Regions from separate parts of the Homo sapiens genome. Here regions 2 and 3 are each linked to region 1. Evidence: fine-mapped expression QTL. A gene starts in region 1. Each other region holds a variant in brackets. All regions are shown on one strand. Distances are from middle to middle. Region 1 holds the start of LRRC8C (leucine rich repeat containing 8 VRAC subunit C). Region 2 overlaps LRRC8C (leucine rich repeat containing 8 VRAC subunit C). Region 3 overlaps LRRC8C (leucine rich repeat containing 8 VRAC subunit C).

Region 1 (6,016 bases):
CTGTTATATGGAAAACGCTGGGCAGAAAACTTTACAATCTCTGTTTCCTCATATAGTCACTATGGTGAGTTAACAACAAATTTATATAGAAAAAATAAATAAGCAGCTTTGGATAATAAAAAAAAGTATATCATTAAGACTAAGGAGGCTTGGCTTCATTCAGGCACTAACTTAGCTGCATAGTCTTCAGCCAAATCAGAAACTCTGAACTTCCTTCTTATGTAAAATGTGGATGGCACCATTTACCTTAGGGGTTCATTGTAAGAACCTGAGATAATGTGTATTAGGTATCTAGCATGCAGCTAGATTATGTTATAGCAATGTACCATATTAAATCATTAACACAATTCTTGGCAAAATAAATATAGTTTCCACCTCATTTCATTTTAAACTTAGGCTCGCTCTATTATAATGTCATAGGTGACTATAACTTAATAATACTATAGAGTATTAAAAATCATAACAATTTGGTAAAAATTGAACACTTGGGAGTTAAACATATTTCTAACTTTGTATTGTTTTTTAAAAGATAAACTTCATGGAAATAAAGTGCAACATTTTCATTCATTTATCTTACAGCTCCTAATGCATTATTTTCACTAAAAGCATTCCCTTTTAAAAATACATTTCATTAAAGTGCTTAATCTGAGAAATAATAGATTAGTACTATTAATAAAGGCTTGATTTTATTAATAAGAAAATTGTTAAATATACTTGGTATCTCTGATACAATTGTTGGGTTGATGGGTCCTGTCTGTGCCCAATCTATTATGTGAACCATGGCAAATATCCATCTTTGCAAAACTGCCCTACATCCCCCTCAAAGGAAACAAACTGACCCCAAGACAGAACTTAATCACTCCAGAGTAAAGCAAACCAATTATAGCCTTGGCCTTCCCTGTTAAAGCAAGTCACAAGAAATGCAAATATCCTAGACTAGAGCTGTATACATTTAATGTTTGTTTACACACTCAACACATTGTTTATGAATTGAGCGAGTTTTATGCAGCTCAGATTACGTTTTGGGTTTTCAACAAATTATTTAAAAATAAACAGAATTTATAAATGTATAAAAATTATTGGCTCTGGCGATTTTGCAGCATTGTGCTAACCAAGAGGACTACTCCACTTTTACTCCTTTTTCGTCTAAATGGCATCTTAATGACCTGCCCACGCTGAAGCCTCATCGATGCTTTGGGAAACCATCACATACCTGTCGGGAAATGTGACTGTTGGTTAAGGCTACGTTTCTCACACTACCGCGAAAGAAGTATGTGACTTACAAACGGCTGCGATTTCCTTTACCTATTCCTTCCTTCAAAGGCTGCTTTAAATGGAGGTAATTCAAGCCTCCCCGTGCCAAACACCGGCACTCCAACAAAGATGGATTGGTTCTTATTTTTTACTTTGAGGATGGGAACCTGAAAATGTTTCCTAACGTTTGCTGAGGCTTTAACATGTTTAAGGAATTTGAAACCAAGGGAAGTTTAGCCGTAATACTCTGAAATATCCGCATTAGGATGCGGGCTAGGTGTCCGGCTGTTGCAAAACTACGGAGGATGCGAGGTTTGGAAGAAACTGTTTGGACTTTGCTGTATACCGGGCAGGCGTGGGGGTTGGGGAGGGAAGAACCGGCTGAGGGAGAAAAGAAAGGCATTCGTGTCCACAGAACACATCTAAGGCTCCTGAGTTGCTAACTCCATCCCTAATCATCTCATTGGTGGGAACCAGCTGGAAAGGGAAAGATCAGCGAGCCTAGGCGTGGGATGAAGGCAGCGGTTTTGGCCTCAACCGCTGGCCTAAACACCTGGCTTCTGGGGCCCGCCCGATCAAGCTGAACCCCTTCCCTCCTGTCCTGCAGGTGAGCACACGGTGCTCTCACGTTTCTTCGAGAAACCTTCCAATTCCTTTCCCTGCCCAAAAGTGCTAACTTCAAGGGTTCGGAGGTGGCAGGGGGGTGATAGACCGGAAAGGACTGGCCCCGGGGTCTCAGAGATTTTCGAGGTAGGAAAGAACAACGATCGCCCCGGCCACGGACGCATTTCCCCTCGCGGACCGCCCCCCCACCCCCGCGCCCAGTCTGCAGGACCTGCCGCTGCGGCGCGGCGTTGGGCGCCAGGCTGAGATCCTCGCGCGGCCGCTCGGGCTAGCGCGGATTGGGTGGGGTAGGGGTTGGCGGGCTCCTGAGCCGCAGTAGCGGAAGGTTCCCAGCACCACACGCCGGGCGGGCAACCACATTCTGCCTGTCTGAGAGCCGGGGGGAAGCAAGGACGCGAGTGAGGCGGGGCGAGTCCCGGTCCGGCGCGCACAGCGGACCGAGCGGGTGGCCCTCTGCGGGCTGCCCCTCTCCATCCCTCCGCGGATCCCCCGCCCTTACCTCCGGGCGCGAGAGTGTCGACTGGAGAAGGTGCTAGGGAGCGGCGAGCTGCCTGGGGGTCGGGCTCAGCGGCTGCCAGGGACGGCGGCGTCGCCCGCGGGGTCGCTGCTCATGGCTTGTCGCGCCCGAGCACTGCGGCCGCGGCCACGGCGGCGCCTTCCTCCTACTTCTCTTCGCGGGCTTCCAGCCGGGACGCAGCTAACGCCCCAGCCCCGCAAGCCCTCCTCCCCTCCGCCTCCCCGGCCGCGGACGGAGCCGCCTCCAGCGCCGCCCCGCACGCAGCCCGGCTAGCGGCAGCCAGCGCCGCCCAGCGCCCGGCCCCGGGGTCGCCACCGCCCGCCGAGTCGACTCCGCGGTGCCAGCCCCGCTGTGACGCAGGCCGCGCCGCCCGGGAACTTCCTCCCCTGCAGAGACCACCTCGCTCCCGGGACTCGCCAGCGAGGGATGCCGCCGGCCGCCGGGGGCCTTCTCCAGGACCAGGAGAGAAATCCTCTCTCCGCTTCACGACGCGGCCACTCCCACCCCTGAGACGCCCACCTGGCGGACTCTGAGGGAGGATTCGGCTGCGTCTAATACCACCTCCACCCCTCATCCCTCACAATGCGCGGAAAACCACAGGCGGCTGTGCGCGCAGCGTCGGCTCAGCCACCGCAGCTCCTCCCCTGGGTAAGTTAGAGGGGAGCAGCCACCACTAAAAATAGCCCTTCTGGGAACTCCTCCGAAGGCCAGGGTCAGGATGAAGATAACCCCTCCACAGGAGAAGCGAAGGCCTCCTAAGAGAAGGGTGGGGAGGGGACGGTGGGATAGAATGAGGAAGATGGAGAAGGAGAAAAGCAAAACCCAATATCCTTGGATCATGAAGCCCTTGAGCCCCTTGACAACCAAGTCTCCTTTCAGGCCGGAATCCCCAACTGCACCGCCCCTGCAATACGGGCTAAGGGGCAGATTCCAGGGAGACTCAGTTGGAATGCCCCGCCTACAGCTCCCGCATAAAGGAGTTGACGGTGCACAGCAAAACCACCTGTTGTTTAACGAGTATGGAGGGAGGGGTTCTCTCTCATTGATTGATCTGAACCGTGCTTTTCTTCTCCCCATTTTCCCACCCAATTTCAGGATGAAAAAGCACTCTGACGTCTTGAAAGCTGGCAGCTCTCTGTTTGGAAAATCTCTGCCCAGTGAAAAAATGTACCGACAAGATTACTAAGTAACACAGTCTTCTGGGAATGCCTTATCAATGCCAGCTATTTGAAGAGCACCCAAAGTCAAACTAGTGCTCCGCGCTGGCAGTCTGGAAAAGGCAGATGTATGTGAGTAGAGAAACTGATAGACAACTAGTTGCTGGCCAGTTGGCCTGTTTTCGTGCTACAAGCCTTCAGAAAACAGTCGCCTCCTTTTACCACGTTTCTATTTCTAAACCAAAATGAAAAGGACGTTTGTTCAAAAGATATTCTCTTGGGCTTTACATTGCTTTCCCCCTGCTCACTCAGCAAAATCCTACACTTTTTTTCCAATTCCAATGCTGCTGTTGGGTGTCCTTCCCAGAAGACAACCTTAAATTCTCTTAGGCCTTAGGAGCTGAATCTAACACCAGTCTTAATTAACCTACAACAAGACAAAAATTTAGGTCCGGGCTTACCTCCTAGTCAGCAGATGGGAAAAATTCCTAGAGAGTCTCTGGGAAAAAGGCAAAGGCTAACTTTAGCAGTTTGCTAGAAAAAAAAAAATTCAAGTACCTTGTAAGTCACCAGGGTAGATGCAGCAATACTCTCTAAGGTAGCTTTACCTCTTCAATTCTCTTACCTTACCTGAATTTAAACACAGTGAGGCAAGTACCAAGGTCACAACCCTCCTGTGGAGGGCCTTATTCTGCAAGGGCTCTCTGATATACTTCTATCTTTGTACCGTTGGCACCTGACCACAAGCTTAGGCATCCCTGAAATGCTCCCTTGCTACCCAGTGTCAAGGAATCATTGAACCTTAGACTTTGTACTCAGGTGAACCAGGATGAAATCCCTATTCTTCCAGTTTAAACTTAGGAAATTTACTGTTCTTTTTATCTGCCCCCTCCCCACCACCCACATCCCCTTATCATCCCTATAGGTATAGTACTACAGGGTGCTGTGAGAATTAGCTAATATGCTCAAAGCACCAAGAACAGTGCCAATCACTTTGTAAGTAGTCAGTAAATGAGAGCTACTATTGTACTTAACTACTCTTCACTGAAAGCAAAAGAACCAGGAATAGCAAAAAGGTTTGGAAACCTGGGATCTGAATCCCCTGCAAGTTGAGTCCACCCCAAGTTGCTTTATTGCAATACTTTTGGCTACTCTTGTGTCTGCCTTCTAATTGGATCAACTGGGTAGTTCTTCACGTGTAGGCAGGTGATTCACATGCACATTAATGCTTGAAAGCCACTAGTCTAAAAACTATGCTACACTGGTTAGTTCACCTCTTCTTATTTTGTAGCATGTAAACCTTAAATCTAGTGATCTTACCTCAGTCCACCTAATTCACATTAACATCCACACTTAGCAAGCTCTCTGTAAAGGACTGGTAGAATTAGCAATCAGTCAACTTGAGTGAGGGTCTTAAAGAAGTACAAGGCTTATTCTCCGACTTCAGGGTGTTCATAGTTCATGGGAATCATGCATACACACAAACCAGAATAAACCATTTTGAAGCAAATGTGCTTGAAGTTCAGCACATCTCCAGGAAGGAGAGGGTACTGTGAGCTAGATGAACTGGGTGCACAGACTCTGTCTTGACCTTTCACTTTATACCCAATTCTTTAGGCTAAATTTTGACATTCTAATTGGACTTCCAGAGTTAGTAGTTCTCACACTAAAGACTGTGTAATTACAAGTTAACCATGTACAGGTTGGTGATAGAAGCAGAAGTAGATATTTCTGGGCTATGCAGGGCTATGGTAAGGGATTTGGAATGAAATAGGTCTGGGCTTAAATCTTGTATCTCTAGCTATGAACTTCAGTTTCCTCATCAGTCTATTGGAATATAACTACCTTTTAGGGTTGTGGTGAGACTTAGAATATCTGTAACCCCTCTAGTGGGTTGTATGGTAACAGCAATTGTGTCACATTGTTGTTTTGTTGTTAGCTGTAAGAAAACTCAGGCTGGGCTGAGTTGTTCCTTGAAGGCGTAATTAATTAATTTTTTCTGAGACAGAGTCTCATGCTGTGTGATCTCGCTGACTGCAACTTCCGCCTTCCAGGTTCAAGCAATTCTCCTTGCCTCATCCTCCTGACTAGCTGGGATTACAGGTGCCCGCCACCACGCCCAGCTAATTTTTGTATTTATTTATTTTTTTTAGTAGAGATGGGTTTTCACCATGTTGGCCAGGCTGGTCTCAAACTCCTGACCTCAGGTGATCCACCCGCCTTGGCCTCCCAAAGTGCTGGGATTATAGGCATGAGCCACCACGCCTGGCCTGAAGGCATAATTTAAAAGTCACCTTCTCTATGAAGCCTCCACAGGTTCTAGGCAAGTATAACTCTTCCTTCCTTGTGTGACCACAGCACTTACCATGGCATGCTCTCATTTGTCTCTTTACATGCCTCTTCACTACAGAGTCTGGGAGCCTCTCCAGGGCAGGGCTGTATCTTGATTCACTTTTATGTCCAT
Region 2 (6,016 bases), 60 kb before region 1:
CAGATGTAGGTAGCTATCAGAATTAGGGCATTTGGTCCTGGATTCAAGACCTCTCTCAATCTCTGTTTGTCAAGACTCAACTAATCACACTTATGACTATATGAAGATGCCCCAAATGAAGAGAAGGCAGTTTTTTGTTTTGTTTTTCAATTGGGGAGGATCAGAGTAATTGCCCAGAGAAGACATTTTGAGGTCTACAGTTTCTAAAGAGACTAAAAACAATACATTTCTATTTTATCACCATTTTTTTCACAATAAAACTGTAAAATGGAAGTGATGCCTATCCTGCTCATTTTATAAAACTGGGCCTCAGAAAAGCCATGTGTTTCACCTAAACTCATACTAAGAGCATATGAGAGAGCCCATGCTTTCTGTTTGAAGTTTTGGGGAAAGATTTTGTTTTTTCTCTTTAAATTAACTTGATCTAGCTGAAATTATTATTTTTTTTAAATCCAGGTTTTCTATTTCCAGTGAGCATATAAGGTTTCTTACAAGGTAAAATGATGAGATAGTTGATGGCCTATTTATTAGACAAAAGATTTTTGCAGAATTCTAAAAATATAAAATTAAGTGACTACTAACTGATATAATCATGCATACAAGTGTTCTACAAGTGAATATCACTACAACACTGTCTCAGCTTGCATTAAGCATTTTCTGAGTCCAATATCTATCACCTATAACATTTAACATCAACATCCTAAACAGTAAGTTAACATATTGAACTTAAGGTCACATAGCCCCAGCTTTGGATATCAGTGCAAAGAATCTCACCAGCTTTTAAGAACTAAAATAACTTGAGTAGGGAGATGCCAATTCTATTTTAAGATAGCTGACCCTATTACTGCCAGTAGTTCAAACACTTCTTAGGAAACTTAACATTTTGAACTTGTCATTACATGATGAAAAATGTCACTATGTATGTTCAAAAGCCTTTATATAGGGCCGGGCGCGGTGGTTCATGCCTGTAATCCCAGCACTTTGGGAGCCCGAGGGGGGCAGATCACCTGAGGTCAGGAGTTTGAGACCAGCCTGGCCAACATGGTGAAACCCCATCTCTACTAAAAATACAAAAATTAGCTGGGCATGGTGGCTCACGTCTGTAGTCCCAGTTACTCGGGAGGCTGAGGCAGGTGAATTGCTTGAACCCAGGAGGTGGAGGTTGCAGTGAGCCAAGATTGAGCCACTGCACTCCAGCCTGGGCGACAGTGAGACTCTGTATCAAAAAAAAAAAAAAAAAGTCTTTATACTTTTATTAGAAACAGGAAGTGCTATTATAACAAAAAAGCTGGGCATGGGCTGGGCTCCCAGCACTTTGGGAGGCTGAGGCGGGTGGATCACTTGAGGTCAGAAGTTTGAGACCATTCTGGCCAACATGGTGAAAGCCCGTCTCTACTAAAAATACAAAAATTAGCTGGGTGTGGTGGTGCATGGATGTAATCTCAACTACTAGGGAAGCTGAGGCAGGAGAACCACTTGAACCCGGGAAGTGGAGTTGCAGTGAGATCATGCCAATGCACACATTCCAGCCTGGGTGACAGAGTGAGACTCCATCTCAAAAAAAAAAAAAAAAAAAAAAGAAGCTGGGCATGGTGTCACGCACCTGTAATCCCAGCTACTCAGGAAGCTGAGGCAGGAAGATCACTAGAGCCCAGGAGTTTCAAAGCAGCCTGCGCAACAGAGTGAGAACTCGTCTCCAAAATAACAAAACAAACGAAACAAAATGAAGCAGAGCTGAAAGTCCTTGTTTGCTAGAAACCCCCAAGTGGACATCTGTAGAATGTTACCATGCCCCACAAGTCTTATCTTCTGTAATACACCATATCACTTTTTTCTCCCTGGAATATAATTTATTCCTGTATTCCTATAACCACCCTGTATACAGTCCACATAAAATTGGAATTCAGTCCACATAAAATTGTCAAGGTGATAGATGACAAGAAGTAAAATTCTAGGGAAGATCAAAAGTGTCAGTTCAAATAAACCACCATAAAAAGAAGGTCCCAACTAAGGCATATTTTTGATACTAGATGTAACAGAGGTTTTGAAATAGTGTTTCTTTCACACCATTCACTACCATCCCCACAGAGATGACAAAGGTTGCTCTTTACAATTATTTTCACTATCTAAATAATTTTTGTTTTATATTCCCCAAAGACCCTAGTAGAACGGAGATGTAAGGTGGGTACATGGAAACTTTATACAACTGGGCCGGTGCAGTAGCTCACACCTGTAATCCCAGCACTTTGGAAGGCTGAGGTGGGTGGATCACTCTAGGCCAGGAGTTCAAGACCAACCTGGCCAAAATGGTTAAACTCTGTCTCCACTAAAAATACAAAAATTAGCTGGGTGTGGTGGTGCATGCTTGTAAACCCAGCTACTCAGGTGGCTGAGGTATGAGAATTGCTTGAACTGGGAGGCAGAGGTTGCAGTGAGCCGAGACCGCGCCTCTGCACTCCAGCCTGGGTGACAGAGTGAGACTCTGTCTCAAAAAAAAAAAAAAAAAAAAAAAAAAAAAGGAAGAAAAGATAAAAGAAAAGGAACATATCTGAGATGAGGTCTTGATTTTAAGCCTTCACTTCTATCTGTGATTTCATCAGTATTCTGATGTAATCAGTATTACTGATTCTAAGTAAGAATTTCTGGGCTTCTATCTATAAAATTCAAATTTGGCCAAAGAAAAAGATCTACTAGAAATCCCAGACAGTATACAGCAGATGACTGCATGGGGGGAGTAGAAGCAAGAATTCAGGGCACATTGTCAAAATGAAGTCTTCTGATATCATTCTGGAATCTATAATTCTGATTGCCTGTACTTTCCAGTGAACTGCCTATGAGCATTTTCACCTGAAGGTCATTTGTCATGGAGCTGACATTGATGGCTCTAAATCAGAGAAGTAGAAATTAATTTCAGTATGCCCTAAAAATCAAAGCGGGGATCAGCTCTAACCAAAAAACTCACATGTCCTAACCTTTTTGATAGTGTGACCCTGCTGGCCACTTC[G/A]CTCCTAGTGATTGGGTTAAATCTTCCAGGATTTTTTTGTAGGTGGCTTTGTCATTGAAATAATTCTTTTTTCCCCTCCAAATTCAGAAAGCAGGAAATGTCTTTTCTATGTCACAATCACAAGGCAGGTCCCCTAGGGCTTCCAGGGGGCTTGCATCTTCCAGTTCCTGTTTCTGGTTTCTAACTGCTAATTCTATATTTGGTAACGGTCTGCCCATGGGCTGTTTTGGATTTGGTCATAATAAGATAACCTGGAGTCACTGAGCAGAGATCTAAAGCAATCTTATTTTTCCAGGAAGCAACGTGTTGACCTTTCAGGATATGGTCTATTTTGTTGAATGTGTTGAGTTTTTGAATAGTGTTGTTTATAGCACAAAGTTGGGTGTTTACACTATTGGTCCTTGAGGGTGTATGACTGTACAGGAATAGGACAGACACATATACTCCTACACTCTCCTGGCTTATAGTGAGTTTATATTTGTTCTTATGTGGATTGATGTAATCTAAGGAATGCTCTTTATACATGCTCTTATTTCATGGCAGCCTTGAAAAGAGCTACTTGCTCAGAAATGAATAAATATTTGTCAGACAAGTAAGGCAAAAGTGCTGGTTCTAATCCTTTTACATAAGTGCAAGAAAGAATCAACATCCCCTTGATAGAAAATAATCTCCTTAATCCCCCAGTATTTTCCAAGCTGAGTAGTGTTGAACCTATATGAATACAATCTTTTAGGAGTAAACAGATATCAACTGTTAACTTGACATGAAAAAAGCAACTTACAAAATAGTTACTCTAAAAGCTGTTGGATTACTATTTTATCATCAAAGAGTGTTCTTCTAACTTCACCTTAGATTTTGCCTTGTCATGTATTCCAATATAGGAGTTAACTTGCTTTGTAAATAAGATCAGAAAGAATGATACACTTTCAATTTACAAGTGGAAAATCAAGACATAAAAATATATTTTAACAATTTTAACATCGCCTTGGGAATGAGAAAGGAACTTGAGCTTCACAGAGAATCCTTTGTTTATAAAGTTATCAGTCATTAAGCCATTTTTAGTGGATTATCATAGCAGAGCTAAAATAAGAGCTTAAATTCTTCCCCTATGGAACATTAATTTGTTATATGGATCCTAGGTAGTTTTACTTTGATAATTTGTACCATGCATTCTTTCTTGTTTTGTTAATGCTCACTATAGAGTGCAAATTTTTCTTTTTAAATAGCAGGTATATAGTGAATGCCCCTTAAAATTTTAATTTATAATTCATAAAATTGATACTTTTTGTAACGATTTTCTCTTTTTATCATTTTGTACTTGCTTTTACACTGAAAATCCTGTTTTATAAGCCAAACCTTGCCCTCACAATCTGTGCAATTGTGATGGTTCCATAATATTTGATAGCAGTGTGCACAGGGGTGACAGACGCCTCATGGAGAATCAGCCTAAGATTGGAATCTCAGCTGCATCCCTCTTGGCTTTGGGGCAAGTTATCTAACCTTCTACACTTTGGAATTCTCATCTGAAAAATGGGACTAATCTACTTTCACAGGTTTGTTCTGGGAACTAAATAAAGTACATACAGATTCTAGCACAGGTTCTCTTGCCAGTGTTACTCCATGGATGTGCTATTAGCATTCTGGATAAAACAATTCTGCTGTGTGGGAATGTCCCACCGATTGCAGGATGTTTAATATCCCTGACCCCACCCTCTCCGAAAAATGCCATCTGGGCCCTCCGGTCACTGTGCCAATCCATGAGGGCTTTGTAAAATGATCACACTAAATATTCTGTTAATGCTGAGTTTTCCCCTTCATGCGTCTTATTAAAATATATATTTTGGTTTTGTATATTCATTCTTTGAGACTTCACTCAATTATCTTCTTGAGTCCCTCACTTCCAGTGACTGAGATGACAACATCATATTTGATGCTCTTGAGGCACCATTAAGGCATTTACATATTGGAAAACATTGCTTATGTGTTTCTATGGTCTTCAGACAATTAGCAATCTGAAGGCATGGGCTGTGCTGTTTTTCTTTTAGCATCTAACACCCCACAGAGTGTCTGATATATTGCTGATGCACAGGATTGTTTGTTGAATTGAGTAGTCCACCCCGTATGAATTCTGTGCCCTGCAGCCTTCATATTCTGAAGCAATATTTCTTTTGGCATCTCACTTTTTCTCAGAACCTTGTCATCTCAGACAACACTTCTTGTACCCAGTCAACTGGCATCAGATTTCTTTTTAACGGCTGAAGAGATGAAAAAGGCCTATGTGTGAAGGGCCCAGGTTAGTTAACCTGTCTGAGCAGGAGCCACTGATTGTGCGAGGTAAGAGTGGTGGTGCTGAGAAGGCTGGTCAGCGGGGAGCCCAAAAGCCTTCTGGACTGTAGAGAGACACTGTGGGGCTGTGCTGCAGGAAGATGATTCTGACCAGCACACAGGAAAAGAGGTTTAGCTTGTGCTTGAATTCCCTCCTGAACTTACCGCAGGCACATCTCCTAAATGATGCTCATTATAGACATTTTCATAGGTACACTCTTATTTTCATTCATTTCATTGCAAGTTAACTATTTATTCTAAAAGATTTTCTGTGTTCTTTCTCTTTTCATCCTGCCATGGAATGTGTAAACAAGAGAAACAATTCCGTGTGCTTGTTAGGCAGATCCTGCAGCAGCGCTCTGAGCCATGGCACAGTAATAAAGACAGGTTGATAGTGCTCCCGCTAATCTATGTCACCTTCCTCTACTATTTCCCAAGCTAGCCACCCCAAATCTAACCTTCTCCTTGAGACCCCTGCTCTACTACCTTCCTTATTGCCAATTCCTACTGCATTCCTCACCCTCACAACCTCTCAGTAAATGTTGTTTTCTCCATCACAGAGAAACAACAAGCCATAAGGCACAGACGCCTGTCTTTCTGTCTCCCTACCAAATAAAAATGTATCTGTAGCTATCATTCCCATTCTGGTGGATGATGCCTCCTCCACCCAAATCAGGGATAATCCTT
Region 3 (6,016 bases), 87 kb before region 1:
AAGGGCATTTCTATGAATATCCCAATACTCTGTGTGCCCCGTCTGATCAAAGTACATAAATAGAGTAAGTATAACTCCTTTATTATTGAGCCTACTTAAAGCATTTGTAGAATCCTGGATAAATTTTTGTATAATTTTTTTCCTCCCTGTATATATAAGAAAAAAAATGATTCTAAACATTTGAAAACAACCCAGAATGCAACTTTTGTCTTACAGTTGTTTACCATAGTGTAGTGCTGTGCTATTAAGAATATCCACGCAGGATATAGTTTGGCAGGTGGGGAGATGGGGAGGGGGATGGAGAATGTCATTATCAGTTTTTCCCATAAGATTTTGAAGTTAACTTCCTGGCATTTTTGATGCAAGTTCTTGATCAGATTTATAACTGAAGCACTTAATAGTCACTAGCAGTTTCTGAGTTAGGGAACGTTACCTGAAAATAATTACCTAGCTGGTTTGCAGTACTTCAGATTTGATTATTATTATTATTATTATTATTATTATTATTTTTTTTTTTTTGAGACGGAGTCTCGCTCTGTCGCCCAGGCTGGAGTGCAGTGGCGGGATCTCGGCTCACTGCAAGCTCCGCCTCCCGGGTTCACCCCATTCTCCGCCTCAGCCTCCCAAGTAGCTGGGACTACAGGCGCCCGCCACTACGCCTGGCTAATTTTTTGTGTTTTTTAGTAGAGACGGGGTTTCACCATTTTAGCCGGGATGGTCTCGATCTCCTGACCTCGTGATCCGCCCGCCTCGGCCTCCCAAAGTGCTGGGATTACAGGCGTGAGCCACCGCGCCCGGCCCAGATTTGATTATTTTAAAGCTGGTAGAATTTGAAGGGCAACAAATCATTCTGAATTTTAGAAAGTGTGTTAAGCACCCCTTATCAGGAGTCTGCTTTCTAAGCTCCATTCTCCCCTTGCCCCCCAACAAATGACAGCCTTATTTAATATAAACCAGGTGTTTAATCTGACATTCTTTGTATTTCCCATTTGACATGAAATCAGTTTCTTTGAGAGGTTACGTGGACTTAAGAAAATATTTACGTAGCTAAATGTTTAGATTGGAATCTCTAGTTTTTAGTTTTACAAGTATGAATTTATTTTAAATACTTCATCACTTAAGGCTGTCAACATCCTGTCTTTGTTTCTAAATGCATAAAACTACTAAATCTGTTAGCATGCTGATATTGTTAAGGCTCAAAGTGTGATTACCAGGGAAGTCTATGAGTCACACCACCAGAGGCTAGAACCTGGGGGAGAGTTCAGAAAAAATAGTCTTCTAATTTTGAACAAATTGACTTCCTGTTGGTAAGGCTCACAGAAACGCCCTGCACCCATTGAATAAAACTTGGTTTTCATTTTGATATCATTGTTGTACATGGCCTTTTAGAATTTTGTTAAGAGTGGCAACTTTGACAACCTAGTTTTCACAAAGAAATTTAAATTACTAAGATATAATTTATCCATACAGCTCAATAGACATGAATAGAACTCATTTCATAAGCTTGTGGACATTTATTGCTCAAATGCATAGGGAGTACATCTTTACATTTTTGCATTGGTTTTCATTATTCTTGGACTAAATCATCCTAAGAAAGATTTTTAAGCTGTCTGAATATTAGAGTATGATTTTAACAAAACTGTCACACATAGTCTATGTTAAATTACAATGAAATCCCAAGAACCTTCCCAATTCAAAGTGAAGAAATGCTATATATTTTTTTTGCCATATCAGCATCACTTCTGGGGAGTTGATTTTTTTTTTTTTAATTAGAAGAACTGTGGAGGAGATAAAAAATGTAAAACTTAGAGGTTGCCTCTTTTGTGTCACTTTTCCTGAGATGTCTTTTACCTGAGGCTAATAAGGATTGAACCAAGCAGTATTTTTTTAATGGCAAAAGTCCAGATGTAACTCGAGTTGAAATAAAATTAATTCTGTAAAGGATTAAAAAATAAGGAGAAAGCCCATTTTCTACTTCTCAAACTTTATAACAGAAAAATCCCTGGATTAAAATAATTGGAATGGCCAATTTGGTTTAGATGTTTGATATCATTGCCTACCCTGTATCTTTTATGCAAAATATTCAAACTCTGGGAATATTCTATCACTTATGATATGCCTGATCATATAACTATTTTAATAATTTGTCCCTAAATATGTTCAAATATGTTTAAATGTGAAACCTACAGTATAGTCTGCATTCAAACATCTATGCTCACACAAAATTATGTAGCTAATGAACAGCTTTCACTTTTTTCCTACTTGCAAATTTAGGATGACATTCAAACTTACATTCAGAAATATGTGGGCCTTGTGCTCTGACCGTGTAAATACTCCACTGAGTCTCAAATGAACTTTAATAACTTCCTTTTTATGCATTTACTTCTTCACCCAAACGAAAAGCTTATGTTGCTAGCCAATAATAACCAATTTAAAATTTTTCAGAGTTTATCTCAATACTCTGTGTAAGTGAAAGGACTAGAAGATGGGACAGTGGAGAATGGCAGTGGGCAGTTTTTTCTGTACGTGCAGATTGCACTGAAATCGCCAGATGTCTCTAATCTATTGCATTCCCTAGCTCCTTTCCAGAATTTCTCCAGAGCTCTCACATGATCTCTTCTAATTTGTGCTACTCACACTTACACAGCCTCTCCCATCACACTCACCACCCTTCCTTATCTCAACAATCCTTCTCCAGAGGGCTGATGATCAGTAAAATAAACACTATTATTAATAAAAATGTGTAAAGGGACTATTTAACTTTGAAAATTACCCATCATTTCTTATGCGTAAGTGGTCATAAAGTTTCCTTGTAGAGGGCTTCCCTAAGCCTGGAGTGAATGTGGTTAATTAGAGGAGGCCTCCTAGCTGTGCAGGATCATGCTGATTCCTTTAAGTAACCACAGTCATTACTATAAGACTATTTACTGAAAGCTGAGCTGGACAGCCATTGTACAATCTCATCTGGCAAACGTACAGAAATTGCACTCCAGATTACATATGAAGGCACTAATTACCCAAATGAAACTCCAGGGGCACCTTAGGTAGATACAGTAGAGTGAATTAAGGAAGGAAATAATTAGTCACAATTACAGAAACTAGCTCAACACAAAGTGAAAGAATGCATGCAGCTTATTTCCTGCAGAGAAAAGGGAGCTTTAGTAATAGTTTAAGAAATGCAAACGATAAACATGATTTCTAAAAATGAGTAAGAGA[G/C]GGACAAATATCTATTTTAAGTTATAAAAATGACTTTATTTTTCTGTTTCTATGTACTACATATCCAAATAACATTAAGACATTTTATCATGAATTTGCACTATGACAAATCAACTTTCAAGCATTTTCTTGACAGTTTTAGAGGTTTTGCCAGCTTTTGACATACATACAGACAGAGTAAACAAGGGGAAAAAAGAAAACTTAGTGAGCACGTAAGTCATGGAGTTTGAGCTCCAATAAAAATATTCATTAAAGAGGAAGAATAAGGTGGGGGGTGGAGAGAGGTATTCTGAAGAAAGAAACAAATTTACCTCACATTAAAAACCATGCATAGGAACTGTTATCAAACACAGCCAAGAAATTAAGTTTTCCAAATTTATATACCCCCCTTTCAAGGTATTCTGATAAAAAAATTCCTTTGGGCAGGGGGAGATCCTCCTCCACCTTTCAAAAATGAACTTAAGGATGCTACCTTTATCGGTGAGTGACTTTGGGAAGATGGAATGAGTGGATGCTTAGTTTGGATGGCTGGCAGGAAACTTTCAGGAGCATGTCACTGAGGCCTAAATCTTATAAAATCATGGCAGGTCTGGTGAAGACTGTCCAAGGTTTCTTGCAATGTTTCTAAGTAGAAAGAAAAGATGAGAAAATTTTCTTGATCTTTTAAGCAGTCTGCTAAGAACCAAGCTGTTTAACTAATTTGTTTTGCTAACTTGAGGTTAGTATGGAATGCTATCCTGAGTTACTAAGAGCTTAATAAAATTTGACTGTTTGAATCACATTATCACATTCAGAATTCATAGGATAATGTTAATTGAATCTTAATTTAGTCTCTAAAAACAAAGTGGAATTATATTCAAATTGACTTTATCTGTTCACTACTAAGTATGCTGACACTTTTCATAATGATGGATTAGGAATCTTTGCTGCTTAAATATATCATTTCTATTGATCAGGTATTTGGTATGAAATTAGATTAGAGGTAAAAGAAACTACTTAAAGAATGAACTTTTCTTATAATAGAAAATAAATAACAGCACAACCCTTCTTGGGGGAAGTGTTAATAAGAGATATAAAGATTTTGTTTTTTCTTTTTTAATATCAGAAATCCTGAAATAGCATACTGTAAGAATTTGGACTTCACTTAACCCAAGTAAATACAAGGAAGATTTTTGTCTAAGACCCTCTCCACAAAGACAACTTGAGAGCCAGGTAAATGGCTACATCTGAACAAAATATTCATAGCAGGTATGTTTTCCAGGTCTTTCTGAAAAAGCAGTACCTACTGCATACGATGCAATGTAAATTGTTGAAACTCCTTGAAACAGATGGGAAATACAATGGCAGGGGAAGGGGTGGGTGAAGAATAACTTACACTTGAAATAAGAGATTTCACTGTATCAAGAATCTTTATATTAAAAGAGCTGCATTAAAAACAAAAGCAAATCAAACCCAACACATAATGAGAAAATGCAATAATTTCTGAGGTGTGGTCTTCTTTGGTGAGTTCCACTGGGATATATTTATATGCTCTCTTTCAACCAGGCCATCACCAAACAATTGTTTGTTCTGTACTTAACAATTAAAACTGACAAAAAGACTTTTTCATCATGAGCTTCAAGCAGCCATAGGAGTTAAGAACACATATGGTGCTTTTATATTTACACAAGCAATCTCTCATGAGTCCTATAGAGATTGGGGAAATAGAGCTATAATAGTTATTCCTTTTTAGAAAGAGCACTTGTAAAATACGGAAAGTGGTTAGATAAATATCCCTCTATACAGAATTGATCAGTTAAAGAACTTTAGAAAAGTCAGCAGTTCATTACCTGAGTTTCCCAGTTAAGGGCTAACTAGTAATTAAATGTTTTTTTTACTTAAGAAAGTGAACAAAAACTTACAATATTAAAAGGGGCCAGTGTCAGAAAATTTAGACTCAAAATTAAGTTTCAGACTTTTGAAGGTTTATAAAATCTAATAGGAATATCTATGAATTTTCCTTCTTAGTTAAAACATGAAGTCACAGAACTATACTGACTTACCAGATGTTATCAAAACTTAGGTTGGGGGTCAGCCTGCAAAATCACTAAAAAACAAATCAATATTTTTTTGGAATTTTGAGCAAATTTTTACAAGTGATAAAAATGAATTATTAGTGACCTCGGTTATGAACCCATATGAGATTTTTAGTTAACACCAGATAAAGACTTCAGCATAAGCGTGATTTTTAACCTGAAGAGATCCCTTTTGAAGGGTAATATAGAAAATAACTATAAATTTTATCCAGAAAAATAGTGCACCCAGTGTTTTGCCAGCAGTTACCTAAGCTTGCCTTTCGACGAGGTATTTTTGTCATGCTCAACCATGGACAATCGGCCAACAAATTATTTGTTTAAAACAGATAGGGCTATGTTTCTAAATACAACACATTATTCAAACTCAGGATTCCAACACTATTCTGAAATTGAATACTTTATCATACAAGAACTATAACCATGTTATTATTCTGAGCACATTATTTCAATTCCAGGTCTAAATTAATCAGCAAAATCACCATTCTAAAACATTAACATAGAGCAGAAACGTAAAGCACTTTGGTCTGTATAATTAGATTATTAAACAAATCGAAAGAATCTCTTTCCCTAATGCTTCACCTCATGATGTAAAGTTGAAAACACAACTTAGGAACACATTTCTGAGGAGCAATTCCCAACATTTGTTTCTGTATACAACTCAAAGCAGCACTGAGTAAATTCACCCAAAGAACAATTTTAAAAAACAACATTTTGAAAACCCAAAG

Evidence for each region. PIP is the estimated chance that this variant, and not a neighbour inherited with it, causes the effect.
Region 2: its variant is the best candidate, but not a certain one, in a credible set for the expression of LRRC8C in T cells (TOPMed, PIP 0.66).
Region 3: its variant is the best candidate, but not a certain one, in a credible set for the expression of LRRC8C in lung (TOPMed, PIP 0.76).

The regions. Positions count from the first base shown.
Region 1 is chr1:89,629,684-89,635,699 of GRCh38, reverse strand. It overlaps LRRC8C (leucine rich repeat containing 8 VRAC subunit C), which reads right to left and starts at 2,580. Exons shown (of 3, transcript NM_032270.5): 1 at 2,378-2,580. It overlaps LRRC8C-DT (LRRC8C divergent transcript), which reads left to right and starts at 2,806. Exons shown (of 3, transcript NR_033981.1): 1 at 2,806-3,043; 2 at 3,491-3,684. RefSeq lists enhancers at 1,609-1,658, 1,689-1,738 and a silencer at 2,119-2,778.
Region 2 is chr1:89,690,149-89,696,164 of GRCh38, reverse strand. All of the region lies in intron 2 of LRRC8C (leucine rich repeat containing 8 VRAC subunit C), which reads right to left. Among named protein-coding and RNA genes, the nearest start is that of LRRC8C, 60 kb to the right of the region's middle. The variant G/A (reference allele first, on the strand shown) is at 3,005.
Region 3 is chr1:89,716,748-89,722,763 of GRCh38, reverse strand. It overlaps LRRC8C (leucine rich repeat containing 8 VRAC subunit C), which reads right to left. Exons shown (of 3, transcript NM_032270.5): 3 at 3,231-6,016. Among named protein-coding and RNA genes, the nearest start is that of LRRC8C, 87 kb to the right of the region's middle. The variant G/C (reference allele first, on the strand shown) is at 3,217.